Linked DNA regions of Homo sapiens. The protein of the gene in region 3 interacts with the protein of the main gene of each other region in a biochemical or structural test. Each region holds a gene or a part of one and is shown on either strand. Other genes may lie near its edges. The genes, in order: LHX1, GSC, FOXA2 and OTX2.

Evidence for each region.
Region 1: the proteins of FOXA2 (region 3) and LHX1 form a complex in vitro, tested with the Homo sapiens proteins (one study listed by BioGRID).
Region 2: the proteins of FOXA2 (region 3) and GSC form a complex in vitro, tested with the Homo sapiens proteins (one study listed by BioGRID).
Region 4: the proteins of FOXA2 (region 3) and OTX2 form a complex in vitro, tested with the Homo sapiens proteins (2 studies listed by BioGRID).

Annotation. Positions count from the first base shown.
Region 1 is NC_000017.11:36,933,390-36,940,500, forward strand, and holds the start of LHX1 (LIM/homeobox protein Lhx1), read left to right. Parts: upstream 1-4,085; 5' UTR 4,086-4,808; coding exon 4,809-4,978; intron 4,979-6,900; coding exon 6,901-7,111. UniProt on the Homo sapiens protein: Potential transcription factor. May play a role in early mesoderm formation and later in lateral mesoderm differentiation and neurogenesis.
Region 2 is NC_000014.9:94,767,723-94,774,463, reverse strand, and holds GSC (homeobox protein goosecoid), read left to right. Parts: upstream 1-4,350; 5' UTR 4,351-4,448; coding exon 4,449-4,803; intron 4,804-5,246; coding exon 5,247-5,506; intron 5,507-5,814; coding exon 5,815-5,973; 3' UTR 5,974-6,241; downstream 6,242-6,741. UniProt on the Homo sapiens protein: Regulates chordin (CHRD). May play a role in spatial programing within discrete embryonic fields or lineage compartments during organogenesis.
Region 3 is NC_000020.11:22,581,557-22,588,818, reverse strand, and holds the start of FOXA2 (hepatocyte nuclear factor 3-beta), read left to right. Parts: upstream 1-4,246; 5' UTR 4,247-4,540; coding exon 4,541-4,627; exon of another isoform or gene 4,628-5,076; intron 5,077-5,664; coding exon 5,665-6,969; 3' UTR 6,970-7,262. UniProt on the Homo sapiens protein: Transcription factor that is involved in embryonic development, establishment of tissue-specific gene expression and regulation of gene expression in differentiated tissues.
Region 4 is NC_000014.9:56,807,453-56,814,574, reverse strand, and holds the start of OTX2 (homeobox protein OTX2), read left to right. Parts: upstream 1-4,095; 5' UTR 4,096-4,199; exon of another isoform or gene 4,200-4,352; 5' UTR 4,353-4,416; intron 4,417-7,122. UniProt on the Homo sapiens protein: Transcription factor probably involved in the development of the brain and the sense organs. Can bind to the bicoid/BCD target sequence (BTS): 5'-TCTAATCCC-3'.

The DNA.
Region 1 (7,111 bases), on a different chromosome or scaffold from region 3:
GGCTGTTCTGGAACCGAAGAGAGAGGAGGGAAATGGCTAGGGGCGGCCATCATCCTCGGGATCAATAGCAGCCGAGAGTGACTGGGCAGGCTCTGTCCATGGGCCGAGCGTCATTCTGGAACCTGGAGGGGGCGGGGGCGGGGGAAGGAAGGGAAGTGGAAGTTTGAGAGGGGCACCTTCAGGCTCCCCAAACTGCATGGCAGCTGGAGAGAGCTGACAGAACCCTCTCCAACCCGGGTTCTGACCAGGGTCCCTCTGGGGCTGATCGTCAAGGAGCTTCTCAAGAAAAGAAACCTGGACTGTGAAAGTCACCTCCTAGGCCCTCTGGGGCCGTATCCGGGGGTGCCTGGGAGGAGGGTGGAAAGGATTCTGCAGTCACCGAGCTATGGGCGAAAATGATCCCCGCGGACCCTGGTCCAGAATGTACAGGTCCTGGGCGGTGTAAGTGGCTGTGGGTCTGTGGAGGACATTGGGTAGGAAAACGCTTGCGTAGTTGAGGATGCAGACAATAAATGTGGCCGGGAAGGTGAGGAGGGAAGGTTGGTGCTCTTCGCTGAACGGAACTGGCTTAAATGCAGAGCTGAGCTGAGCGGCTTCGGAGAAGGCGAATTTAGAAAGCCTGGTCAATTTTCTCTCCATGTCCCTGCGACCGATTATGTTTTAAAACAAAAGCTCAATGGAAACGAAAACAAAACAAAACCCACCATTTGTCTAATGTGCTGTCCCCGTGGAGGAGTTAAATCTGGACTCCAAACCTAGAATCTGGAGCCAAGAGGCGCACTTTGAGTTGCGCTCCTGGCCCCCCTTGCAGAGACGCCAGGGTTGGCTCCTGCGGACCTGTTTACTGAGCCATCTGGACACCAGGACGAGCGGAGCCTGACGCCCTAGAGCGAGCGTCCTGTCCTCATCCTCAACTCTCCTGCCTCGCTGGTCCGTCTGTGGGGAGGGGCCTTCTTTCCCCTATACCTAGGTCCCAAGGTTCTTACACCCCTAAATGGATGGAGCAACCTCCTCCTGCCCACCAGAGGGAGGTGACAGGCCCTGGGTTGGGGAAGGGCCGACAGCTAGGTCCAGCTGTCGTCCGGTAGGTCCCACTGACCGCCCCACACTCCACCGTGACCCCTCTGCTTTGCATGAGAAGGAGCCCAGCTGGGACGGGGGCGGAGGCAAGCCACCCGGGACTGGGGCCACTATAGATTCCAGAAAGGGGCGGTTGGGTCGAGGGCGCTGGCGGCGAGAACCGGGACAGCTGCGGGGAGGGGAGGAGTGTGAGGACAGCAGGGCTGGACTGGCCCCCTCCCCGCAGGCCTCACGCAGCGCAGCAGGCTGGGAGGCGCCTGGGGGTCCGGGTGGAAGAAGTGGGGACCCCATGCCACACGGCTTTTGGCGCTTGCGGGGGTGCCAGAAGCCTACCGAGTACCGGTCGTCTTCCGCCGGGAAGTGCCGGGTCCGCAGGAGGAGCGCGAAGCCGAGTCCGAGCCCGCGGAGCCCGCCCCCTAGATCGCAGAACCGCCTTCTCCATCCTCTGCCCTGCCCCGCGTCGGGGTCTGGGAGCGACCGGCGGAGGCCGGCGGCGCGCCGGAGCTGACTAGTCCCCTACGCTCCTCCGGCCCGCAGCGGGGAGCCCACATGTGTATGTGCAAGAAGGTGTGGAGAAGGCGTTAGGGTCCCGGCACCCACGGGTCAGGGCAGAACGCCAACGAGTCGCACTGCGGGTCTCCGCGGCTTCGGTTTCCATGACATGGTGACGCCGGCGGCAAGGCGGGGGGCTGCCTGTGGGCCTTGAGGTTGCTGGGCGGTGCGGGCGGAGTCAGCAAAGGGGCGTTGGCAAAGCCCTAAAACCCCACGGTTCCACGGAGCGCAAGCCAGATTCTCTGAAGCAGCTTCCCCGTTCGTCCGAAGAGGGTATTCCATCTGCACAGCGGGATTCCCTGCCAGCCCAGGTTCACTGCGACTCCGCTTCCCCGAGCATTTCCCCCGTTTCAGCTTCCGTCTGGTCTGCGCATCGCGAGTGGGGTCCAAAGGCCAATTCCACAATACCAGCCAGCTCCGGAGGGACGCCCACTATCACTGCCTTCCATGCTCGGGCCAAATGAGCCTTCCTAGCACCCCCTCCCCCGAAGCACAAAAACGGGGAGCAAAAGTGGGACCGCCCAGCCCAACCACCTTCAGACTCCACTTCAGGAGAAATCCTGGTTAAGCCCACCCAGAACAGGTGTGGTCGAAACGGAATTTAGGGTTTGACTTGAGTGCTCCGAAAAACTACAGTAACTCTTCCAGGCGAAGGCACTCTAGACCAGGATCTGTCCCCCACGTGTGGGAAAATAGGCCCCTGGGGGCGGCGGTCCCGAGTTCCTAGCCAGAGCGGGATTAGGGAGTTACGGGTTCCCTGAGGAGTGAACTATGGAGGGTGTGGTTTGCTGTTGTCTGGGGAAGCCGGTGCCAACCCGAAGCCTGGACAGGGGAGGACTGGAATCCCGGCACACGCTGCCCATGCACTGCACGCCCATCTACTGCAGCCTCTTCGTGGCGTCCCGGCACCCCCCCCTCCTCCTTCCCTCTTCCCAACGCCACGACCACCACCCCCAGCCGCCGCTGGAGCCCCCGGTTTCCCGCCTAGTCGTTTGTTTTTGTACGTAAAAGGTGTCTCCGGATCACAGTTTTCTCACAACTTTCTCGCCAGGGTTGCAACTCCTCACCCGAGGCGCTTCCCGGTCCACTCCTTCCCCCGCGCCGGCGCCGCGCCTCCGGTCTCCCCGCCCCCATCAGGAAACCGCCCGAATCAACTTTGCAAGAGTGCTCTGCGGGAGACAGACACTCAGCTCGCCCAGGACCCGGACCCTGTGGACTTTGGATGGATTGGGGGAGGGGGCACAGAAAGAGGGACGGGAGGAGGGAGATTCTGCTGCTAAGAGCCTCCTCCCCCTCCAAAGATGTGCGCTGCGCTTGGGACAAACTTCCAGCTCAAGAAAGTACGGGGGGACAATGGCAACAGCCGCTGAATTGCAAAGCCCAGCAGTGCAGGGGAGCCGCCTGGGATTCCGGACCCGGCTGCACCCCAACCTTCCACAAGGCTCGGTCTTGGACTACCCCCACTCTACAGCAGAACTCTGGCCTCCGCCTGCGCCTATTCCCGCTCTCTCTCTGTCCCTCCCATCGAAACCCACGCCTTACCGGAGCAGGAGGGGGCCCAGGCACGGTGCTGCCCGCCGTCCGCGCCGCGCGGGGCCGCGGGTGCCGCCGCCACTGATCCTCTAAACGCGGTCTCCCCGCACTCTCCCGGGCCGGGGGATGCAGAATGGTTTACAGAGGGACCGCGAGGCGCTGATTGGTCGCAGGCCGCAGTGACGTCAGCGGGCGCTGCATTAAGGCGAGGGGGCTTCCAGAGCTCAGCCAACAGCCAGGAGCAGTGACCAAGCCGCCGGAGCTGGGGAGAGACGCACCGGGGCGGCGACTGGGCCAGGAGACCAGGGACTGAGGGACGCGCCCGGGGAGGGCCAGCAACGAGCCGCGGCCCGGGCGGCGACAGCGGCGGTCCGCGCCGAGCCGTTCCAGCCGCCGGCCTACTGTAGCCGCTGCGCCAGGACATTTTTTTTTAAAGCTCTCCAAGCTGCCCCCCTCCTCCCCGACTCCTCCCGCTGCAAAAGAAAAACAAAAAAAAAAAAAGGAAGGAGGCTAGAAAGGAAACCCAGATTTGCCACCACAACGAAAAAAAGAAGGGGAAAAGGAAAAGGAGAGAAAGTCGAGCGACTGTGGGGTTAGACGGAGGCAGACAGAGCGTGGGCCGAGCGATGCGGGGCTGTGCGCCCAGGCGGCCGCGAGTTGTGACTGGAGCCACGATGCACGGCCAGGCGCGGTGAGAAGCCAGCCCGTAGTGCCTCCCGAAGGAGCCCGGGCGCAGGGAGGGTCGCCCTGAGGACACGGAGGCCGCCAGGCAGGCCAAGGGCCGAGGTGACTGGGCTGGGGCGGTAGGGAAGGAGCGAGTGCGCCTGGCTGCCTCCGCACGGAGTTGTCCCTCTCTGTTTTCGATTGACACAAACACTTCTCCAAAAGCGGGGAAACCTAAGCAACAACAGCAATCAACACCAAGATCTTCCTCCTACCCTCCCCTCTTTCCCTTCTCCCGCGGTCGGCCCTCGCCCCCTCCCCCAGGCCCAGCGCGGGCGCTCGGCGCGTCCAGACCCGCGGCGCGATGCCGGCAGTTTAGGATCCAAAGCTTCTCTGCTCCTTTTGTTCTTTCCTTCCCTTTTTTAAAAAAAGAGGGGGGAAATCCCAGTGGTGGGCAGCCTGGCACGCACACAGTCGCCCTCATACCCCGACAAAAGCAGATGCACTTTGACTTCTGACAGCTCTACCTCAAGCCCCGGAGAACTCAGCGGCGCTTTCCTCGCAACCCGAGCTCGGCGAGTCGTCGTCTTCTTCTTCTCCGTTTTTATTTATTTATTTCCGTTCCCGCCGCCGTTCTCGCTGACCTTCACTCCTCCGCGGGCTCTGAGCAGAAGGGTCGCATTCTCTCCCGCCTGAGACTTCTTTTCCTCGCCCCGGGAGCTCAGGCGGCGCCGCTCCAGCCCGGGGCCCCGGGACTCCCCGGCTGCACACTTCACTGAGACGCCCCCCCAGGCCCCGATCAGCCTCGTTTCCTCCACCCTACTTTGATTTCCTGGTGCGAGTTTTGGCTTGCACGGCCGAGTGTGTGTCCTCTTTTTGGAGAGACTGGGGAGCTCGTGCCGATTGTCTTCAGGAGTCATCCCCTGGGCTCTACTTTGCCCCTCTCTCTCTCTGGGCCTCATCAGACCAAACCAAAGACCATGGTTCACTGTGCCGGCTGCAAAAGGCCCATCCTGGACCGCTTTCTCTTGAACGTGCTGGACAGGGCCTGGCACGTCAAGTGCGTCCAGTGCTGTGAATGTAAATGCAACCTGACCGAGAAGTGCTTCTCCAGGGAAGGCAAACTCTACTGCAAGAACGACTTCTTCCGGTGAGTACTTTCCTCCCACGCCTCTGCTGCTACCTCCCCGCGGGCCCTTCCCGGCCAGCTTCGGATCAGAGGTTAGCGTGGCCTCGCTGCCCAGTTAGGAACTGCTTCTAGAGAGGGCAGCCAAGTCCCGCGGGCGCCCGCCTCTCCGCCAGCTGGCGCGCTGGGAGCCCGGGACGCGGCCCTGCTTGCATCCTGGAAACTATGGGTCTGGGTTTGGCTGCATGTGCCTGGGAAGAAAGGGTCTGAGCCTGACTCGGCCCAGAAGCCCCTTCAAGCTTGGAAGAGACAGGGCAGCCTCGGGCGTTGTAGCCCGGACTGCTGTCTTTCCCGGAGCCAAGCTCTGCAGCAACTGCATTCTCCAGGCCTTCGGGGTTGTTTGCCCTCCAGGCAGAGCCCAGGCTCCCTCCCGGCCACTACCTTTTCCGACCCCGAGCGGTCTTGGCGGTAAGCTCCGAGCCTTTTGCGTAGAGTGTCTGGGCCAACTGCCCTGTCAGCGGCAGGAAAGAACTCGGCCTTAAAGCCGATCCTGCACGCCCGGGGGTCTTCCCCAAACCCGGACATGCCTCCGAGTGCAGACCTGGACAAACTGCTGCACTGTAGCCTGCGAAGTGCCCGGAGCTTTTTCCTGCTTCCCTGGCTGCCGAAGTTGTCTGGTGGTTCGGCTTCAGCCCCAGGTGACTCCGACTCCCACGGGCTCCGCTCAGTAGTCCTCCTAGGAAACTGCCAGCCACAGCCAGCAACCTCCTTGATGAAACCTGGGGGAAAGCCGAGACCTCCAGCTTGCTGGTGGGGAGACTTCTCCCTACCCCCCTTATTCGTTTAGCATTTTAATTATATTATCGTACACTCACAATTTTGCCGCTCCATTCACACAAACACACAAGTCAACAGAGAAGAACGGGCACAAATGCGAATTGTAATTCCACCCTACGGATGTGAAATATCGCAATTTACTCGGCTGACTTGGTCTCTGCTTTTCTGAGTTTGTGGTCATAGTTCAAACCAGGGAGCAGGAGGAAGAGGGATTCAAAGCCACTCAGAGGGCCAAGACGCGCTGTCCCCAGTGCCGCTCCAGGACTCGTGGCTGGGGTTGGGTTGCGTGGAACCATGAAGCAAAGCTCCGTGCTCGCTGGTATTTCGGGAGAACGCGCAGGCTGAGCCTCTGAGCCTCCGCGGGCTGCCCGGTTTTCCTCAAGGACTGGATCATAGCGGGAGGGTGGCAAACCGTACTCGTACCCGCTGCCAGTGGGTCCCTGAGCCTGGCTTCCACAACCCGCGGCAGAGCGCCCAGAGCCAGCTCCCGCAGCTCCCGCTTTTGCCAACCTGTCCCGCTTTAGGCAAGAGCGTGGCGGCGGCCCCGCTAAGGCTACGGAGGGGGGCTCTCCGCGGCTATGTTTGTTTACCAACAGCGGGGCTAGACATCGCCAACCCCATGCCTATGTGCGGGTCCTTTTGCGATGAAGGAGAGAAAAGCGGCGCTCCGCGCACGTTTATATAGAGTTCTAATTGTAATTCGACTTTTCTGAATCTAATCGGAAAATAAGTGCCCCGTTCCCCCCGCCCACACAGGTCACTGCCTTGCCACCTTCTTTAGACGATGCATCTTTCCTCTGGGATAACGCTGGGAGTGAGGCTGGGGCTTGGCGGGTAGCTTGGGCCCCTGGCTCTAACCGCGTGTATCCCCTCCCTAACTCTTCCCTGGTGCCGCGCTCTCTCTCCTGCTGCCTCCTCACCTGCTTAACCGGAATTCTGCCTCTCTTTATCTCTCTCTTCCCTTCTTTCTGTGCTCCATTCCTCCTCTCCTACTTCCTCCACTTTTTACATCTTCCCTCTTTCTCGCTGTCATCTTTCTCTCCGCCTGTCTCCCCTTGCCCCTGGCTGACCCATCCCCGCCCCCGCCCCCCACCCCCACCCCCCCGCAGGTGTTTCGGTACCAAATGCGCAGGCTGCGCTCAGGGCATCTCCCCTAGCGACCTGGTGCGGAGAGCGCGGAGCAAAGTGTTTCACCTGAACTGCTTCACCTGCATGATGTGTAACAAGCAGCTCTCCACTGGCGAGGAACTCTACATCATCGACGAGAATAAGTTCGTCTGCAAAGAGGATTACCTAAGTAACAGCAGTGTTGCCAAAGAG
Region 2 (6,741 bases), on a different chromosome or scaffold from region 3:
CCCCGGAAAGTCCAAGCTATTTATTTATTTATTTATTTATTTATTTATTTTTCTAAGGCCTTGGGAACACGTCATTTTTCGATAGCCCCTTCTTCTCTTCTCTTCTCTTCTCGTCTCTTCTCTTCTGTTGAGCTTCCCTAACACCTTGATTATTTCGTCCTTAGGGGATCGGGTGCTTTTATTTGGAGCGTTGGAAAACTTCTAGCAAAAAATCAGCTAGAAAGCTCCCTTACGCCCTCCGCTCCGAAAGCAGGAGACCCAGCTCTAATGCGCGCTGCCCCTTAGCCAGGAGGCATTTGCGCCTCTGGCTCTACTCCACCCACCCAACCTCACACGGACAATCCCCTGGGGCTACCGGAGATGTCCTCCAGAAAGCAGCAGAGCCATGGAACGGGGTTTGAGCACTTAGCTTTGAGACTGGATTTTTTAAAAGTCCCAATACAAACAACACAACCATTCCGCTCAGTGAGGACGGCTGAGGTCTCGGCGCAGCACGCGGGCTGCAGGGGGCTCTGCGCATTGCTCCTAATTCCTCTGACCCCGCTAATGCGCCCTCCGATGAGGGCTCCGTACCTTGAAAAGGACACACCGGCTTTTTGCACATGACACGAAAAATCCGACTTAAACGCATCCGATTGTGAACTCTGCTCTGTGGCCGGGCAGGAGACGGAGAGAATTAAGAAAGTTCCTGAAACGAACCGTAAGAAGTTGGGGTCGAAGATGCATTATTTTTTTACAGTTATGCGGAATGGGGTGTAAGGATAGTGGGGCGACAGTTTTCTCCCTGACAAAAATACCTTGGGGCGGGAGAAGATACTCACACGCATACTCCAAAGTTGGACACTGTTTTAAATCAGAGAAGCAATTTAATCTACACTCTATGAATCAATTTAGTGATGACCGCAGTGCAAAAGCGCCGTGACAGATGCCGAACGGCAAATAGACCTTATGCATGTGGAATCCGCTGAGCTATTCTTTAATATCTTAAAAATGAGGACTATTACTGGGGCGAGTGACTCCTCAACAAACACATTTTCATAGACTTCTGCGTGGTGATTGCTTTGTGTGAAATCGTGTTTGGGTGATAATAGGGAAAATCAGCGGCATGTTTACTGCATTTCCGACCTAAGCGCTCGCCGGCTGCCTCTGGACGCTCGCGGTCCTCCCATGCTGAGCTGTGCGTGCGGGGCCGACAAACAATCGCTTAGCAACACGAGGTGGACAATTTGCGTGCGTCGCATTTGTTATTCCAATTGCGCCAGGCGATGCGGGGCCCTGATGGTTTGTTTAGCACGTTGAGGACACTTGTGAGTTTCCGCCCGCCGAGGCGCAGTGCGAGCACCGAGCGCCGACTGCCTTTCCCGGGGCCTGCCTCCGCGCGGCTGCAGATTGAAGGGGCAACCCGATGGGGGAGGTCCCGCCGCGCAGGGGTGAGCTCCCCTAGAGCTCCGGCAGAGTGTCTGGAGCTGTGTGGCCTTGGGGTTCCTGTGACCCCCTTCCCGGAAAGTCCCCTCTGCGGCAGCACTCGCTTTTCCTTATTTTAGACCCAGCTGATGTAGGAACCCTGTCCTTGTCTGGGGGCGGAGGTGGGGACAGCACACTCCTTTGTCTCAATGAAAAATAAACAAGAAAATGCCCCCAAGTTCATCCCCAACCTCCTTGGCGAACGGATGACAATTACCAAGTCTCATTAAATGTTAGGGTTGCAAAGGGACCCAATGAATGTTGGTGTTGGTTTGATCAACTAAAATCCTGAGGCCTCCAGAGAAGGGATGATTTGCAAGGTGGCAAGGTTGGGTCTGCAACTCTGACGCTCAGATTCTGTACAGGGCTCAGCTGGTACAGCGGAGGGCTGCAGGAAAGCACAGGCGCAGTATAGCAGTTTGCTAAACCTGGTTATTAAAAAGAACAATGTTCCAGGTGGAAGGGGAGACGGAGGGGTGTGTGGAGGTGGTTGTCTGATACTTTTAAAAACATGGAGACACTTTTTTTAGGTCTGCGGTTGAAATCTTGACACTCTCCTGATTTGGCATCTTTGCAAGAACAGGACGAGGAATCTGCCCCAAGCGTCAGGTGGCACTTGTGCCTCTGCCCGGCTCAGACAAAGGTCTTAAAAGATCCACTCACACGCGCACCGCAGCGCACACCCAGCCTCCAACACAAACGCAGGCAGTCACTGATAAGTTGCAGCCTCTAGTTGTCGTCCATCAACTGCCCTGTAGCTTTAAACCTGGGAAAGATTGGTGGGGGAGTATCTGCCCTGGAGCATGGTGACTTAAGTCTCTGAGAACGGAACAACAATAAAAAAGACTTCATCCTAGTCAGTGGGAGATGGAAGGTGCCTCACTTCTTACCCTAGACCTGACCTCTCTAAGGGGAGGGTCACACTCCCTCTTTGTTTTTATTGTTAAAAAAGAAAAAAAGGAAAACTCTATTCACTTCCCCAAATTGAGACCCATCTCCGTCATGTCCTAATCCCCATTTACAACCACCTCTAGTTTGCGCAGCACTGGAAGGAGCAACTCTCAGGCCACAAGCTGGTGGCCGTGAGGACACAGAGGTCCACGCTGGGAGGCCTAGGAGGAGAAACGTCGCCGCCTGGCTCCACTGGGCCGCTTCTGCGCGCCGCCACAGTAGTGCCCTCGGACAGGACTAAACCTCCGTGCAATGGCTCTTTGAAACCCGAACAGAAATTGACAAGTGGGCTTTCCCCTTTGCCCCTGAGCCGGGGAGTGGGCAGCCCACTTACTTAGCCTTACGGCGGCGACTTCAGACAACTTTGCGGGGTCCCTTGGTTAATTAGCCTGAGAGAAATCGCGAAAAATAGGTGTGAGTTAAAGGCGGACTTCCTTCAGGAAACCCGAGGTCTCCCGCAACCCCATCTCCCTCTCCGGCTCTCGGGGGTATCGCCTGGGTCGGGTACTGCCCCTTCCCCTGGAGTGGCCTGAGTTGCAAGCCGGGAGCTTGCACCCGGTCCACAGGATCTGGGGGACTGCTTTTGTTCCGCGCGTACCGTCGCCTACCTTCTCGAAGGGCGCTCGGCCGCCTGCTTGCCGTGAGTGGTGGGCTGGCTGCGCCTCCCGTGGCTCGGGCAGGCTGGCCGTGCCATGCCGAGAATCCCGCAAATCATCGCGGCCGCCTGCCGCTATCAGACCCGGCCATCGTCCAGGCCACTGCGGCCCAGGGAATCCACTCTGGGCCTGCCAGGCGGAAGGGCAGGCCTACCGGCAGCCAGCAGGTCGTAAGGAAAAATGCGACCCAATTATTGGGGAAGAAGATAGGGAAGTCCCAAAGACCCCATCTGGATTGAAAATCAAAAAAATAGTTTGGGAGAGAAGGCACCACATTTCCAAAACTAATTTTTTAAAAGCACAAAAACTACCGACACCCACGCTGGGAGCAGCTAGAAGCACCGCTTCAGACTGCAACTCTTGGTGGCGAATTTTAAAGAGCGGCTGAATTTGGTCTTCGCTGTGTAGGACCTAGGGACTGCCATGGTAGTTTTCAGACCCAGAGTGGCTGGAAAAAAAAATCTTTTTAAGAAGCACGATGCACCCCTCCTTTAGTCGTTTTTGCCTTTACAAAATTTGGATTTTACAAAACCAAAAGTTTTTTGGGGGGGTTAACAAGTTCCATTCGGGAGAGAAACTCAAGATTTAAAAAAGAGGTAAATCAGGCGGTGAGTACGTGGGGGCGCGGAGGAGTGGTGGAATTTTCAATCCTGCTTGAGAGGGGATGCAGCCCCTCACATTTTCTAAAACAAAACCAATTCCGAAAGGGGGAAAAAAGTAGCCCCAAAGTAAAATCGTCCACAATGAATTTGAGCTACAGGCAGAGGAAATCGCACCCAATAATAGGACCCAATCTGAGAAAAAAGGGTGGGGGTGGAGAGCTCGGGCGGAGGGAGTTGTTAACTGCGGCGGCACAAAGGAATTAATGAGATTAACCAAGGCAATTAGGCCGCCCGCCCAGCTCGGCCGGCCCGCGGCCCGGCTGCCGAATGGAAAAGATTAGGTTAATTTCATTAATTCGCAATCCACAATCTCTTTTCAGGCCTTGTAACCCCCTCCCCTTGGCACCTCTCCCCCTCCCCCCAACCCTCTTCCCCCACCCAAAGGAAAAGAAAGGGCCAAATCTGGTTCTGTTTGTCATCTGCATATTACCAGGAACTAAATCCAGGATGACGTCGACTCAGTATAAAACCAACAAGAGGTTCAGCTGGTCTGAGCTCCGTCCTACCCGCGGGTTGAGTTCAGCGAACGCTGCGGCTAGGGGAGGGCGGGAGGAGGGAGAGCGGACGCAGGGGGCGGGGAGGGGCGCAGGGCTGCGCGCTCGCCGGCGCTCTCTTTCGGTTTGGTCGGCGGCTGGAGGAGAGTGGACCCCCCCACTTTAAGGCTCTGTCCTCGGCGCGTTCCCGCCGCCCCCCGGTCCCGACGCGGGGCTCGGGGATGCCCGCCAGCATGTTCAGCATCGACAACATCCTAGCCGCCCGGCCGCGCTGCAAGGACTCGGTGTTGCCGGTGGCGCACAGCGCGGCGGCTCCCGTCGTCTTCCCGGCCCTGCACGGGGACTCGCTCTACGGCGCCAGCGGCGGCGCCTCCTCGGACTATGGCGCCTTCTACCCGCGCCCCGTGGCCCCCGGCGGCGCGGGCCTCCCGGCCGCGGTCAGCGGCTCCCGCCTCGGCTACAACAACTACTTCTACGGGCAGCTGCACGTGCAGGCGGCGCCCGTGGGCCCGGCCTGCTGCGGGGCCGTGCCGCCGCTGGGCGCCCAGCAGTGCTCCTGCGTCCCGACGCCCCCAGGTAGGGTCGCGCTCGCTCCGGCCTCTGCCGCCCACTGCGGTCCTTAGCCCATGGAGCCGGTTGGTTAATTCACCTTCCTCAAACTTTGCTCCTCTTGCAACTCCCCCCTCCGCTTTTGCCGATCGGGCGCAGGAGTTTGCAAACTTCTTGCTGCAAACTTTTGGCCAGAGTTCGCGAAAACTGGAATTCAGTGCCTGCCCGGGGAAACTGGGTTTTGTTTTGTTTTGTTTTGTTTTGAATTCTCTTACTGGCTTTGGCGGGTGTGCGGATGGATGCTCTAACACGCCTCCTCCTTTTCCCTGCACCCCTGATTCCCGTGCACCCCCAATTCTCAGCATCCCCTTGCAGACGACTTCTAAGTGGAAGAGGGTCGGGGGCTGGCGGGCGTGCATGCGTGCGGTGGCGAGGGCGGGCGGCTGACCGTGCGCCCCACTCTGTCGCAGGCTACGAGGGCCCCGGTTCGGTGCTGGTGTCCCCGGTACCGCACCAGATGCTGCCCTACATGAACGTGGGCACGCTGTCGCGCACCGAGCTGCAGCTTCTCAACCAGCTGCACTGTCGGCGGAAGCGGCGGCACCGCACCATCTTCACTGACGAGCAGCTCGAAGCTCTCGAGAACCTCTTCCAGGAGACCAAGTACCCGGACGTGGGCACGCGCGAGCAGCTGGCCCGGAAAGTGCACCTCCGCGAGGAGAAAGTGGAGGTAGGCGCCGGGGCCTGCCGTGGGCGCCTAGCGGTCCTTCCCCGCGAGGTGGGGCCCCAGTCGGGTTTGCCCAGCCCTGCTTGGCTCTCCCCGCACTTTAAAAACATCCCGATGGCGGCCCGCAGGCTGCTGGAGGGCGCTTTAGGCCCAGGAAGTTGAATGAAAACGCGGAAGCGGGAGCGAGCGGCTCCCCTCCTTTTGTTGGCCTGCGCGGGGTGTCCCGCCGCCACACCAAGCTCCCCGGGTGCCCCGGGACTGGGGGAAGCGCGCCTTTGATCTGAACTGTTTTGTCCTCCGTTGCGCAACAGGTCTGGTTTAAGAACCGCCGCGCCAAATGGAGGCGGCAGAAGCGGTCCTCATCAGAGGAGTCGGAGAACGCGGAGAAGTGGAACAAGACGTCGTCGTCGAAGGCGTCACCGGAGAAGAGGGAAGAGGAAGGTAAAAGCGATTTGGACTCGGACAGCTGACGGCCGCGGGACACTTGCCCGTATTACTTACCTAACTCGAAGGACTTGCACAGACAGACGATGCTACTTTCTTGCACACGCGCTGCCTTGCGGGAGGGGGTCGAGAAAGAGGAACGAGGAGCTGTAAATAGTGTACAGAGCCGGGAGGGTCGGCGTCTGGGGTCAGGGCGCGCACAGCCCAGCAGCCCGAGGCCGCCCGCGACTAGCCCCCACCGTAGTATTTATAGTTAAATTAAGGGTGACAGTACAATAAAGTGATGGCGATGTAGACGGGCCACATTCTGTATTTCATACCCCCCGCCCCACCCACCCACCACCATCAGTCTGGAGCCAAGAAAAGAAGTCTATGTAGTCCGTAACCTCCGGAGGAAAAAACTGAGCAGCTATGATCTACCTAAACAAACAAACAAACAAGAAATGAAGCTCTGGGTAACAGTCACAGCATGGGTGTCCTGGTTTAAAAGGAAACCTTATGTCTAGGAAGGTTTGGAGAGTAGCATTGCTGGGCCAGAGCCGGGAGGAGGTACCATTGCAGTTGAGAGGGGCAGCCTGGGTCCCTGACTCCCCTCTGCCGAGGGCAGAAGGAGCACTTCTTCCCTCACTGATGAGGTGGGAGCTAGGGGAGTCCGGGAGCTCCCACGGAGCCCACTGCTCCAAGCTGCTCAGCCCTGCTTCTGAGAAACCTAAGGCGGCGGGTCCACGGGGGAATTAGGCAGCGGGCATGCCACCTCCCCCAGCGCTTTCCTGGAACTTCCACAGATGCTCCAG
Region 3 (7,262 bases):
ACATCGTATTTATTTAATTCATTTTATTTTCTCATTTTAAAAATGTATGTTTCATCTTTTCCTGTGGATCTTGCGGTGGAGAGATAAATTGCATGCAGGTGCACACAGTATTAAACTTAAAATGTTGCACCTTGCCTCCCCCTTTATCAGCATTTTCCTGAGCCTTTGCTGAAGGCTGCAACATGCTGAATTTTTTTATTCTTTTACATAAATACCCTCTGATAAGGTGTTCTTAGCTAATGACCTTTTCAATTGCCCTCTCCGTAAACAACTGGTCTTTTGACCATCCAAGAACTTTGAAAGCCAACATAAGTGTTTGAAGGTGTGCTCAGTGCCAAGTAGACAAATTTTGATGGTCTAATTTTTTTTTTTTTTTTTTTTTTGAGATTGAGTTTTGCTCTTGTTGCCCAGGCTGGAGTGCAATGGTGCGATCTCAGCTTACTGCAACCTCTGCCTCCCGGGTTCAAGCGATTCTCCTGCCTCAGCCCCCGAAGTAGCTGGGATTATAGGCATGGGCCACCACATCCTGTTAATTTCGTATTTTTAATAAAGATGGGTTTTCACCATGTTTGTCAGGCTGGTCTTGAACTCCTGACCTAAGGTGATCCGCCCGCCCCGGCCTCCCAAAGTGCTGGGATTACAGGCATGAGCCATTGCGCCTGGCTGATTTTTCAGTACATTTCAGAAATAATAACCCACCCAAAGAAAGTGAAATGTTGATTATAATCTTTGACACACGATATGCCTTTTCTTCATTGAGACTTGAGATTCATCCAGAGAATGAATAAGGGGTGTTTGGACATCTGCTTTTTTACCAATTAAAAAGTTTATAAGAAAGTAAAAATGCATACTTTCCCAAGACTGTGCTGTCACTTTTCCATCCCCTCTGCCTTCATCTTGCCTACATATCTGCCTTATGTTGCCCTAAACACGCTGGGGAACTTTGAGCAAGGCCTTGCCTGGGTATTTATTCTCTGAAAGGTTTTAGGAATTGGAGTATTAATGGGACTTTTATTGTTTTTCTCCTTAGGTATTTCATGGGTTCTCACTTAGGAAAATTGAGTTCTGTTCAATGATGCCCCTTCTGCACTGGTTGGTTTCATGTGACAAAGAGAGCTCTAGGGAGGACTTTTGCTAGGGGAACGCAGATTGTTCCAGCAAGATGAAGGCCTAGGAGACCTGGATGGCCTGGGTGTTTTCTTCCCAGGGAGAGCAGAGGAGGCCTGGATTTGAACTCGAGTCTTATGACTTTGCCATTGAGGCAACATCCAAAATAAAAATAGCATGCTAACCCCAAGCACAGTCCTCAGTTATAAAGCAGCTTTATTATAGAAGCCGGCGGTGACCTAACAAAATGGAAAGGGAAGGGCTCTGTAGGTCTCGGCCCTACATGAGGGTAGACTAAAGAGGGATTGGGAGAAACATCTGCAGCCCGAGGTCCCCGCGAACTTTTTCCTGGAGAGAAACTCCGGGAGCAATCTTCAGCATTCAAGCCTGAGCCAGAACTCTGGATAGCCCTTTAGAAATCAGAACTCCGGGAAGGAGGAGCTCCAAAGACCGCTGAGCTGGAAGGGAACGCGAACCCCAGGCTGTCTGAACGTCCCTGCTTCCTTCGCAGCCCGTTGGTGTCCCGCTCCCAGCTACCTAAAGCTAACCGTAGACCCCGCTCGCATTCCCATGGGCAGGCGTGCCGGGAGGGTGCGGGAGCGGCTGCTCCGAGACTCTAGGAGGCGTCATCCAGCCCTACCCTACCGGAGCTCCCAGAACCTCGCCAGGGTGCAGGAGGCCGTTTTGGGTTCGCGCAGAACCTAGGGGTTGGGGCTCCAAAAAGGCCGAGTCCCCCCGAAGGCGTTTTCGGAGAGACTGGGAGAGCGGGGGAGAAGGTGCTCCGGTGCCGGAGCTGCGGGGTTGGGATCGCGGGGGTAAATGAGGACTCGGGTCGGTCCCGCGGGCCTGGCGGCCGACAGGGGGCGCCCTGTCACTGTGGAAGCCCCCGCCGAGCGCTCTCTGGTGTCCCTGACCCCGGCCACCAATAGTGCTGTGGTGGAGGTGGGGGCTTCCAAAGTCCGCTCCTTGGAAGTGTAGCGCCCCCTTCTCCTGCGGCCCTCCAGCTCGCTCCTTCTGTTCCTGGAATAATTTCTGGGACCAAATTTCCACCCAGGAGCAAAATAGAAAGGGAAGTGGGCACCCACATAAGCTCACAAATACTCTCATACAGCACACGCACAGACTAGGTCAACCATAACATTCTTTTGAGTTTTGGGGGTGCGGTGTGTGTGTGTGTGCGTGTGTGTCTGCCCAGGCCTGCGGAGAAAGCTTTGAAAAATTGCTCATTCTTTGAGCTCCAATGCTTACTCCTCTTTCCCTGCCCTCGGTGGAGTGATGAAGTTGCTCCCATCCACGCGCTAGGTGGGACCCCGTGGGAAATGCTGGGGATCTAGCCCCTCTGACTCCGCTGCGCACACCTCCACGTTCACTACGTAGCCGTACACACCATCAAGCTCCTTCCCTGGCGCACCGGGCTGGCCTGCCCCTCGTGGGAGCCTTCAGCACTCGGGGGACCGATAGGCACGGCTTCCGCGGAGATACAGACCTTGAATTTGTGGGAGAATCCCGCCCTGGCGCTCACTCGGCGGGCTTATTAATGCCCTCTTTATGAAGTGTCCAAACCATCTGCATTTCAGCAGCAAAAGATGCTGCCGGCGGCTTCCTTCTGTGTCCCAAACCGTGCAGACCTGAGAGTCCTGGGGTTAGGGAAGTGGTTCCCCTGTGCCTACTGCTACCTCCTCGCTTGCCTTCCAGCCTCACCCTTACTCAAGCTTCAATGCGAAGCTCCGTGTCTGCCATCTCGCCTGTCTTCTGCCACCATCGCCCCCAATTTTGGACAGGTGGGCTGGATGCCCACTAGTTCCTATGCATTCTCTGTGTCTGAGGGGGTGGGTACAGGGCTGGATCCCCAAGGTCCAGCCAGGTTTTCAGAACCAAGAAAGAGCCTCCACATCCAAACACCTGCAATATCCCCCCACTCCAAATCTGGGCTCACAGGCTAACCCAGAACAGAAGACAATTTTTGAACCCAAGAGCTGCTGGGGAAATAAAAGTATACGATTGCTGGAGTTTCTAATTTCTATTAAGCAGTCCCTCTGGAAGACAGAGAGGACAGAGACGCTCTTGAAGTCAACTCCATATGCCCCATCATTGATTCCTGGATTCTTCTCTCCTCACCCCTCCCTCCCCACCTCCTGCCCTGTTTGTTTTAGTTACGAAATGCTGTGGGCACCTCGGTTGTGACTGAAAAGTAACCTTGAAACACGCCGGCCTGAATATCAGAGACAAATCTCAGCCTCCCAACCGTCGGCCGCTGCTAGAGGGGCTGCTTGCGCCAGGCGCCGGCCGCCCCACTGCGGGTCCCTGGCGGCCGGTGTCTGAGGAGTCGGAGAGCCGAGGCGGCCAGACCGTGCGCCCCGCGCTTCTCCCGAGGCCGTTCCGGGTCTGAACTGTAACAGGGAGGGGCCTCGCAGGAGCAGCAGCGGGCGAGTTAAAGGTGTGTACGTAGTTTTTCTAAATAGGACAGCGCTTTGCAAATTGGCTGTCATGGACTTGCTGTTTTGACAGAGAATGAGCACTGAGAGCGAAGAAACCCGGCATAAATAAATCCGGCTTTCATAGGGATCTGCCGGGCACTGAGGCTGGACGCGCCCTCCGACAGGCGCACCGGGCGCCCGGCGCGATGAGACGGGGCGGGGGCTGGAGGCCGGAGCCGCCCCAGAGGGTGGTTTCCTCCCAGGTCCCTCCTTCCTCAGGGGACTCGCTGTGGACCCGGGAGGAAAGGGGGCTCGACCAGGGATCCCGCGTGCCCGATCGCCCGCCCAGCCCGCTCCCCTGGCCCGCCCAGGAGTGCGGGGCGCCGCGGCGGTGGGGCGGACGGCAGGCGCTGAGGGGCAGGTGCGGAGCGCCGGCTGCGGCTACCTCTCACCTAGGTGTGAGCTGATTATTCAAATGGGCTGCCCCGGGTCTGGGGATTGGAGGCCCGCGCCAGCGCGCCGCGCTATATCACCAGCCTCCCACGTCACTGCGGCACTTGTCCGCTCCGCGGTCCACACCTCCTCCTCCTCCTCCTCCTCCTCCTCCTCCTCCTCCTCCTCCACCACCACCACCGCCTCCTCCTCCTCCTTCCTCCTCCTCCTCCCCACCCCCCCACTAGCCCCCGCGCCGCGCGCTTCCCGCCGCCTCGGGGCAGCTCGGCACTGCCAACCTCAGCCGCCACCCGGCAGCCCGTGAGCGCGGCGGCGGCGGGTGCTCCCTACCGCGGGGCGCTGGCCTGGGCCTCCTCCGCTCCTCGCCCCCCCCCACCTCCCGCCCACTTCCAACTACCGCCTCCGGCCTGCCCAGGGAGAGAGAGGGAGTGGAGCCCAGGGAGAGGGAGCGCGAGAGAGGGAGGGAGGAGGGGACGGTGCTTTGGCTGACTTTTTTTTAAAAGAGGGTGGGGGTGGGGGGTGATTGCTGGTCGTTTGTTGTGGCTGTTAAATTTTAAACTGCCATGCACTCGGCTTCCAGTATGCTGGGAGCGGTGAAGATGGAAGGGCACGAGCCGTCCGACTGGAGCAGCTACTATGCAGAGCCCGAGGTAAGCGCTCGTCTTTTCCAGGGGGAAGTGGAGCGGCGGCGCTCGCTCCTTCCCCAACCTCAGGACCGCTTCCCTCGCTGGCACCCCCCCACCCCGCCCCACAACCCCAGCCTTTCTGGGCAGCCGCCTTTTCCGCCCTCCTTGGAATCAAATGGGTCTCTTTTTTATACGACACACTGTTAGCCTTGAGATAATATTAACTTTGTGATCAAATATTGACTTGCGGCGCCTCCAAATCCTCTTCGTGGCCGAGCCACGCACTATCCTAACAGAGTTATGTTTGGCAGCGCGCGGCTGGGGAGGGGTGGGAGGTCGGCCGGCGAGGGGGTGGGGAGCTGAGGAGGAGAAGATGGGTAGGAGTTGGGGGCTGAAGTGGAGGCAGAGTCAAAGACTAGTGGACAAAGAGAAAGAAAGTTTTTGCCTGCAAAGCTCAGCCGCGTGTGGTTCAGGTCTCGGTTCTTTCCCTATTGCCCCGTTCAGTGCCTCCAGCCGCCCCCGCACTCCGCACAGGCACTGCCTTGCAGTTTCCCTGGGACAAGGGAGGGGGTCCCTGGAGGGAGACCGGACAGAGGGGGCCCGGGACAGTCTTCGCTGGAGGCAGCCCGAGGCGCCCCGCGCGTTGTCCCGCAGGTTGCTTGCTGCGACCGGAGGTGGCGTCCGGGGACTTCGGGCCTCGGCGCCAGCTCAGTATGCTGGTGGGAGAGTTTGGGGAGACTCTGGGGTAGGGGAATGTATTTGGGGTGCTGGCTTGGGAGTACTCCATGGGACCCCTGTTCTAGAATCTGGGCGAGGTGGAGAAGGGCTAGGAACGGGCCACATGCCCAAGCAGCAATCCGCTCGCCACCTTCCCAAGGGCGATCGATCATGACTCTCCCTGAATGAAACAGACTCGGAGTCCGGAGACTGGGCCATCGGGGACGAAAGGGCTCCCCGGAGGCCTCCCCGGACGCGGAGGCCTGGGCGGTGGGTGGGAGGTCTGGGCACCCTCCAGCCGCGGTGCTAACGCTGTCGCCTCCCTCCCGGGGCTCTGTCCGCAGGGCTACTCCTCCGTGAGCAACATGAACGCCGGCCTGGGGATGAACGGCATGAACACGTACATGAGCATGTCGGCGGCCGCCATGGGCAGCGGCTCGGGCAACATGAGCGCGGGCTCCATGAACATGTCGTCGTACGTGGGCGCTGGCATGAGCCCGTCCCTGGCGGGGATGTCCCCCGGCGCGGGCGCCATGGCGGGCATGGGCGGCTCGGCCGGGGCGGCCGGCGTGGCGGGCATGGGGCCGCACTTGAGTCCCAGCCTGAGCCCGCTCGGGGGGCAGGCGGCCGGGGCCATGGGCGGCCTGGCCCCCTACGCCAACATGAACTCCATGAGCCCCATGTACGGGCAGGCGGGCCTGAGCCGCGCCCGCGACCCCAAGACCTACAGGCGCAGCTACACGCACGCAAAGCCGCCCTACTCGTACATCTCGCTCATCACCATGGCCATCCAGCAGAGCCCCAACAAGATGCTGACGCTGAGCGAGATCTACCAGTGGATCATGGACCTCTTCCCCTTCTACCGGCAGAACCAGCAGCGCTGGCAGAACTCCATCCGCCACTCGCTCTCCTTCAACGACTGTTTCCTGAAGGTGCCCCGCTCGCCCGACAAGCCCGGCAAGGGCTCCTTCTGGACCCTGCACCCTGACTCGGGCAACATGTTCGAGAACGGCTGCTACCTGCGCCGCCAGAAGCGCTTCAAGTGCGAGAAGCAGCTGGCGCTGAAGGAGGCCGCAGGCGCCGCCGGCAGCGGCAAGAAGGCGGCCGCCGGAGCCCAGGCCTCACAGGCTCAACTCGGGGAGGCCGCCGGGCCGGCCTCCGAGACTCCGGCGGGCACCGAGTCGCCTCACTCGAGCGCCTCCCCGTGCCAGGAGCACAAGCGAGGGGGCCTGGGAGAGCTGAAGGGGACGCCGGCTGCGGCGCTGAGCCCCCCAGAGCCGGCGCCCTCTCCCGGGCAGCAGCAGCAGGCCGCGGCCCACCTGCTGGGCCCGCCCCACCACCCGGGCCTGCCGCCTGAGGCCCACCTGAAGCCGGAACACCACTACGCCTTCAACCACCCGTTCTCCATCAACAACCTCATGTCCTCGGAGCAGCAGCACCACCACAGCCACCACCACCACCAACCCCACAAAATGGACCTCAAGGCCTACGAACAGGTGATGCACTACCCCGGCTACGGTTCCCCCATGCCTGGCAGCTTGGCCATGGGCCCGGTCACGAACAAAACGGGCCTGGACGCCTCGCCCCTGGCCGCAGATACCTCCTACTACCAGGGGGTGTACTCCCGGCCCATTATGAACTCCTCTTAAGAAGACGACGGCTTCAGGCCCGGCTAACTCTGGCACCCCGGATCGAGGACAAGTGAGAGAGCAAGTGGGGGTCGAGACTTTGGGGAGACGGTGTTGCAGAGACGCAAGGGAGAAGAAATCCATAACACCCCCACCCCAACACCCCCAAGACAGCAGTCTTCTTCACCCGCTGCAGCCGTTCCGTCCCAAACAGAGGGCCACACAGATACCCCACGTTCTATATAAGGAGGAAAACGGGAAAGAATATAAAGTTAAAAAAAAGCCTCCGGTTTCCACTACTGTGTAGACTCCTG
Region 4 (7,122 bases), on a different chromosome or scaffold from region 3:
CGTTTCATTCCGGAACAACATGGTCCTCTTTTCCTCTTTTTCGCATTTGGAGTTTGCCTCCCTACTCTTTTATCGAGACAGCCCAATCCTATCTTTGAAGTTGTTTCTTTCTCCCTTACCCTCTTTTTTGAGGCAACCGCAATGCAGGGAGTGAGAGACCCAAGCTTAATTTATAAGTGATCTGTTGCCTTATTTTTTCCCCTAAATTTTGTCTGCATTTCCAGTCTTAAATCCTTGTTAAAAAAATTAAGGTTAATCTCCTCAAAGTTTATAATAAAGATATATCTAAAAACCTAATGAAAAAATGACTTCTTTCTAGGTATTATGGTGCTTCTAAGGCAAAATGTAGTCCCTCACTGTCCAGTGAATTGCTGAAAAGATTGGAAATTAATGTTCATATTTCTGAATTCAGTGTTAAGGAAGTCTAACTGGCTCCTTTCCCCCAAAAGGCTATGTTCTCACGGAATATGGGTTTTGTTCTTCTTTTTTAATTAGCCTGGAAGAATCCCGGGATGTCTTCTCTCCCCTCCCCCTCCCCCACTCCCCCCACCAAAGTTAATAAACTTGGAGGAAAGTTTGGAATATTTTAAACTGGCCTGGCTTGTGCGGTGGAGAAATTGAGCCTAGTTAGTGCCACACATGAATCTTGATTTCAAAATATGCATATTAGACATATTCTAGAAACTGCACACAAGCTCTGACAAATAATTTGATTCCCTTCGTATTGGCTTTCTTAATTTAGCTTCTGAATGCTTATATCTCATATGCGTAGCAAAATAATTGTACAAGTGGCAATTAAAAACCATCCACTTTTTAATGAAAATTATTTAAAAACACAAAGCATGCTACCATAAGTCAGATTCATAGAAAAAAAATGTTAACGACACAGGACACAGAAAAAAAGTTAAACACAGAAATACAATGAACAGATACTAGGTAAATTGGAAGTTCAAGAACTTACTGAAAATCAAGAGTTAGACTTTTCATCCAAAGAGTCTTTTTCTCCCACCAAGCATCTAAGGTTTTCAGTAAAAGAGCCCAGCCCCCTTCCCCCAAAGCCAGTGGCTTTTGTCCTGACCTAGAATAGGGTTTGTGGGGACTGTACCTGAGCCGGGCAGTCTGCAATTTCCAAATTGACAAGAAGAGACTGGAAGATAAAGAGCATGTTCTTACAGGTGAAGAGCAATTTTGCAACTTTTCAAGGCGACACCCAGGAGAAAGCTTGCCTGCTACCAACTGCTGCAGAGTCTGGGCAGAATTCCTCTAGAAAGAAAAAGAAAGTCTTTCACCCCCCCCCCCCTTCCTTGTCTGCCTCTCTCTGTCTCTAGTTCTCTTTCTCCTCTCTGTCTCTCTCTCTCAGATCCAATCTTTTAAGAGCTTCAGCACATTGCTAAGCTAAAGGGAAATTCTCTTTGATAAAGCGGTGTTTCCAGCTTCTGGGTTTTAAAACCTAAATCTATATTCAAATCTGGCTGAAGGTGTGTTCTGGGATTTATGAAAGCCTCTTAAAGGGGTAAATTTACCAAACCGTGACAAAATCATCACAATCTTACTTTAGACATCTGAAGTGGATGAGAATTTTAAAGAGACCCTTGTTTATTTAACACTGTCCATTTCCAACTCGTAGTTTATTGGCCCTGTATTTCTGCGAAGTTATTAGACTAGAGGGCAAAGGAGAAGCGGGAGCTGTCTGCTGCCGGCCGCTGGAAGGGCAAAACCCTCTCACGCCCCACCATGCATAAATCTGCCCCTGTCGAATAGAACAGGGGGATTTTTAGGGAGATTCAGCTGCCCCCGCCATCTGGGAGGACATCGCAAACCTCTACATCGGGCTTGAAAGGTTACCCTGGACACTGGACCCTACGGCAGATGGATCTCCCAGTCCAAAATGGTTTACTTGGTTTAGCTCACAAGCGCATGTTCTGATCATTCTCCATCCCACCCCATGCCCACTGTCCCCAAGGCCTTCCTCCGGCCTTCCCCTCTGCCAGATTCACAACGTCCATTTTTCTTTTTCGGCTCTTTTATGCTTTAAACATCATTGTGATCAAACTGGGGGAAACGTTGTCTTTTCTAGGGGTAGGAAGGAGACTCTGCTTCAGGTGATCGAGGTGGATTTGCCTTTCCTTCATCGAAAGCATCATGACTCTGACCAAGCGCACCCAACCAGTGCCTCCGACAGCCAGCGCCACGAGGGTCATAACGCCCGGGGCATTTGTTACCCCCTCCTCACCACCATCCCCATTAAAGGCTTCGGGGGCGGCCGCCAGGTGTTTCAGTACAGTGGGGGTGGGGTGAGAAAAAAGGTCGGTACTCACCCTCCCCCCCGCCCGGGCCCCTAGAAACTCTTGACTCCTGGGAACGCGACAGCCAGCGGGTCTCCGGACTGGAGCTGCTGCAGAGGGCCGGGAAGGAGCTGGGCGGGCTCCGGGCCCCTCGGGGGCTCGAGGGGCCGCCAGGGCCCAAAGCTCTAGGGACACCTGTGACAGGGGCCGCTGCCGCGGAGTCCCCAGCCCCAGGCCGAGCCCGAGCCGGAGCCCGGCTGCCGAGAGCTTGCTGCCTCGTGCGCACTCCCGTAATTCGTTAATTGCTGTAAATCCCAAGGACGGCCACATTTGAGTACACATACAGTATAAGAACCGACAACAAAGCGACGAATTAATTACCAACTTCATTAACATAGGTCCCCAAATTAAAGGCAGCGAGCTGTTTCTTTGGGCCCACTGGCCGTGGTGGTGATGGTAGTTGGTGGTGGGTGGGTGGCGGGGGGTGGGGTATTTAGGAAGAGATTTTATTTTTCTTTTCCTGCACTGGGTGTTGTGAAGCAAGAGCTGTCTTCTGCTCCCACCCCCACCCAGCTTATTCACACACACTCACCAGTTCCACTAGCCACCCCCCACCCCACACTCCGCCCAGTCTGTTTTTGCTTTTCTAGGGACTCGGATCCGTTTGAAACCTGTCCGGTCCCTGCTTTCTATGCCAGGCAAAAAAGTTGGGCTGGGGGTCGCACTCTCCGGCTCGGGCCCCCAGGTCCCATCACTTCCCAGCCTCTGGGCTCGCAGCCCGGGGCTCGGGCGGCGCCAGCCCAGGTAGCTCCAGGCCTCGCAGTGTCGGTCGTTTGGTGGCGTTTGTTCTAACACAGAAACTGTTTCCAACGGGGGCCTCCCTCGTTCGCTCTCTTCCACGATATCTTGTCGACCTCACACTCGCATCCTCGAGGCCCGATGTGGTCCCAGCTACTTCTCCTAAATGGGCCCTGAGATTAGATTCCGGGGTTCGTGTTCCCTGCAGTCTGTCGTGGGCTTCTCAATTCCAAAAAACCCCAGGAACCTACCAGAAGCCGGGGTCTCTCACTCGGGGATCATTTATTTATATGTGTAAGGATATTTATAAGGGCGTAGGGAATAGAGAAGACACTGAGTTTTAGAAAATAGTTTGTTCTTGGACTTGTGTATCTTTCTCTCTCTGTTTTCCCTACATGCCCACATCGCACTCCCAGGCCTCCCTCCTTTACCCTTTCTGGCCGTCAGCGTGCTCTGGCCCTGTCTGAGACGGCATAGTGGTGTTTTTGAGTTTCAGTCTGACTTGCTTTCTGCCTGTCATCCACACACTTATTGCTGGGGTTGAATGTGATAACCCAGTCACTCCCTAACCCGCCATTCTCCAGCATTTACTTAAATATTTTTATCTTCCATCTTACATTGCATGGGTTTCCTTTCTTCCCTTCCCTAAAAACAACAACAACAAAAAAAAAAAAAAAAAAAAGAGAGGAAAGGAAATTTCGGAGTAAAGGAAGCAGGGGAAAAGAGGGTAAGAGAAGAACTCCCTGTCCATCATTTTAATTATACAATTAGTTCACATGCTCCGGCCCATAATGTATATTTTAAGCAAAGCCCAGTGTCTTTAAAGAACATTCTGGTAATGTCGGAGGCCTGGATTTGTTGCCTGCTCGTCCCCCCGTGCAGCAGCGGCCTGTTTTCCTCCCCCTGTTGTGTGTTTTTATTATTTTCCCTCTGGCTTAGATGTGTCAATCATTCTCTCCCTGCCATTGGTTGGAGAGTTTGCGTCAAAAAGTTGCCAGAGAGGCGCTTTCTCAGCAAATCTCCCTGAGAGCGGGACCGGCCTCAGCTCCAACACAGCCTCCACTGTGATTAAAAATAAAAATTGCTAGAGCAGCCCTCACTCGCCACATCTACTTTGTATGTATTGCAGAGGGGCCCACGCGTGTTTAGAACTCTAGCCGCCTTCCTCATTTTCGTTCTTTAAAAAAAATTTTTTTTGGTTGTGTTTGACTTTTCATGGAAGGGTGAAGACTGCAAGGTTTCTAACTCAATACTCTTGATTTCTTTTAGGATAGCTGGCTATTTGGAATTTAAAGGATATTTGACTTTTTCTAACCTCCCATGAGGCTGTAAGGTAAGTGTCCGTCTGTCTTGTCTATATCCATATCTACGTGTCCCCGTGTCTGTCGGCCATCACCCCAGTACCTCCAATAGACCGACCGATGCCCCTCTGCGAACGTGGAGTTCTGTAGGCGGATGTATTTTTTCTCTTACAAATTTTGAGGTGTAATAACGATCGTTGCAAAAAGAAAAATGTGATCTAGAGATGAGAGCGGTAGTGGGAGAGAGGCAGAGAGCGTGCTCCTGGGGGTCGTCGCTTCTGCAAAACGTCGTCGAAACGCTGCGAATGTAATCTGGGGTGTTTTGGAAGGTTTTGTTTGTGGTTTTGTTTTTATGTCAACGCCGTTCTGGGCTTCTCCCGCGATCTTTGCGTTTTGGCCCCCAGATTTGGTTGGGGTCGTTTGGATGGATCCCAGGGACCTTTTTAGAGTCCGAGACAAAAAGATGCAGATGTAACTAGATGGATGGATTGAAACAACAATAATAAAAAGCCAGGCGCCTCCTTGGGCCCGCGCGCCGGAAGCTCGGTTCGCTTGCGGGTCGGCCTGGGCCGGGGGCCGCCGCTCGAGCCCCTGTCGGCCCCTGTTGAACGTGAGCGGAAACCGGAGCGGATAACCGAGGAGGCTGGGAGCGCTGGCTTCTCGTCCGCCCCGGCGCTCACTGCTCGCTCTCTTTGGCCTCCTCTCCCTCAGCCTAGCACAGCTCGGTTGTCTGTTTCTCCCAAAAGCTTCCAGATCTCCTTTTTGTTTTTAAATATCCACCACCCCCCAAAATCCAAACCACCCTGGGTTGTAATTACGCAGCCTCCCAACCCCCGGTTGTCGTGGTCCCCGACCCTGGTCACCAGGCCGAGCGAACGTGAAGAGTGTTTTTTCAACATGACTTTGCCGGGTCGCGGCCCGCCCCACGTAGCCCTCCGCGCGCACCTGGGGCGGGCAGAAGTGGCAGCTAGTGGCCCCTGCTCCGCCCAAGGCCGCGGCCGGGCCAGGGACCGGAATCCTCCCGCTGGGACCGCGGCCCCTCAGCTGTTCTCTGGCGGGGAGAGGCAGGGCTCGCCCGCGCGCTCGCGCACCCCCTTCCCAGGCTCCAGGACAATGAGGTGTCGTGGCTCGGGGCCGGGCGGGGGCCGAGGGGTTCGCCGAGGCCCAGCCTGTGCCATGGATCGGCCCAGTAAGAACCATCCGAAGGTCCCTGCCAGCGCCGGGCGCGGGCGACGGGTCGCTCTGCAAACTCCCAAGAAGTCTTCGCGTTGTTGCGTTCAAGTGACTCTTGAAATCGATGCCCGATTTCGGGACATATTTTTGGAAACCCAAGTCCCCTGTCAGGATTCCACCGAGTTGGCTTTTGCTTCCTTCACAGATAGAACTGGTGCGCGGGGAGCGAAGGCCGAGCGGCGCCGACCCTGCGGTGGTGGATTGCTTGGGGAGGGGACGGGGAAGTCGCTCCTAGAAATTCTCCCCTCCATCCTAGAGCTTCGGGGTCAGGATTTCTCCTGCTCAGCTCGGGACTTTTTACAGGCACCAAAAGTTATTAGCAACAGAGGGGAGTAGGAGAGGGAACTCCTCCCCCCAGAGTAAGGTAGACACCCAGACCTCAGCGCTAACACCGGGGCTTTCTCCCAACGATAATTAATAGTCAAGGCCAACCCTTTTGGCACGTTTCTTCCTCCCTCCCTCGCGGGTGGCAGAGTTATTTGATTCCCCGAGGCCAGAAACTTTCACTCGAGTTCGCCGGAGAGAGGCCAGCGCCGGCCGTTTTCCGCGGTGCCCACACGTCTCCTTTTTCTTTCTTTCCTCCTCTTCGTCGTCTTCCCAGCCGCAGGCCAGTCGCCAGTCCGCGTAGTTTTGTTTCCTTTCCATCATGCAGAAAATTAATCAGCCCGGACGAGAAGCAGAGAGGAGCATGGCGGCCTGTAATTAAGGGACGTGTGCCCCTCGGATTATCTCGTTAGTTTATCAAGAAAACATTTATTATAATTAATTCTCGGACGAGGTAATTATTGTTGAGCGAGGACACAGCAACTGGTAGATGGGCTTCTTGGAAGAAAAAAAAAACAAGGCGTGGGGGAGGGAGAAGCGACAGATTGCACGAATTGACCGTTAGATATAAGGCTGCGCGGGGGGCGCGGGCAGTGGAGCGGGACCTCGGGCGCCAGGCCTGCGGGGCTGCGGGGCTGCGGGGCTGCGGGGCTGCGGGGCTGCCGGGCAGGAACGCGGGACCCAGGCACTCGCGCCCGGAGGTGCGGTCGCCGACCGGCTGCCGGAACTCGCCGCGCGACCGCGGTCAGCTTCTAGGTATGAGTTCTCCAGAGGCCACCTCGTGAGCAGTCATAGTGAGGCGTGGATTTTTCAAAAGTTATTTCTTTTCCCCGTTCTGGACCCTGCTTCGAGAGGAAAAGAGCTTTGAAAGTTAGATTGAAGGGCCCATGCCTTCTATGCAGAGTGCATACCTAGGCCGGTTGTGGAGAGAATCTCTTAGTTTTGGGTTTTGGTTTTCCTCTTTTCCTTTTAAAGGTGGATCCAGGAGCAAAAGTGAAAATAGTCTATTTTGAGAATTTTAGCCATTTTGCAATGGTAAGGGCAAAGGAGCCCCTGGAAGGATCTCGGCCCTGGTGCTTTCTGTGTGTTACTGGCTTTTTATGTTGGAATGTGCTACTTTATTGTATGATGTGTCAGGCATTTCTAATTGGGTGAGAGCTCTACATGTAAGAACATTTCCA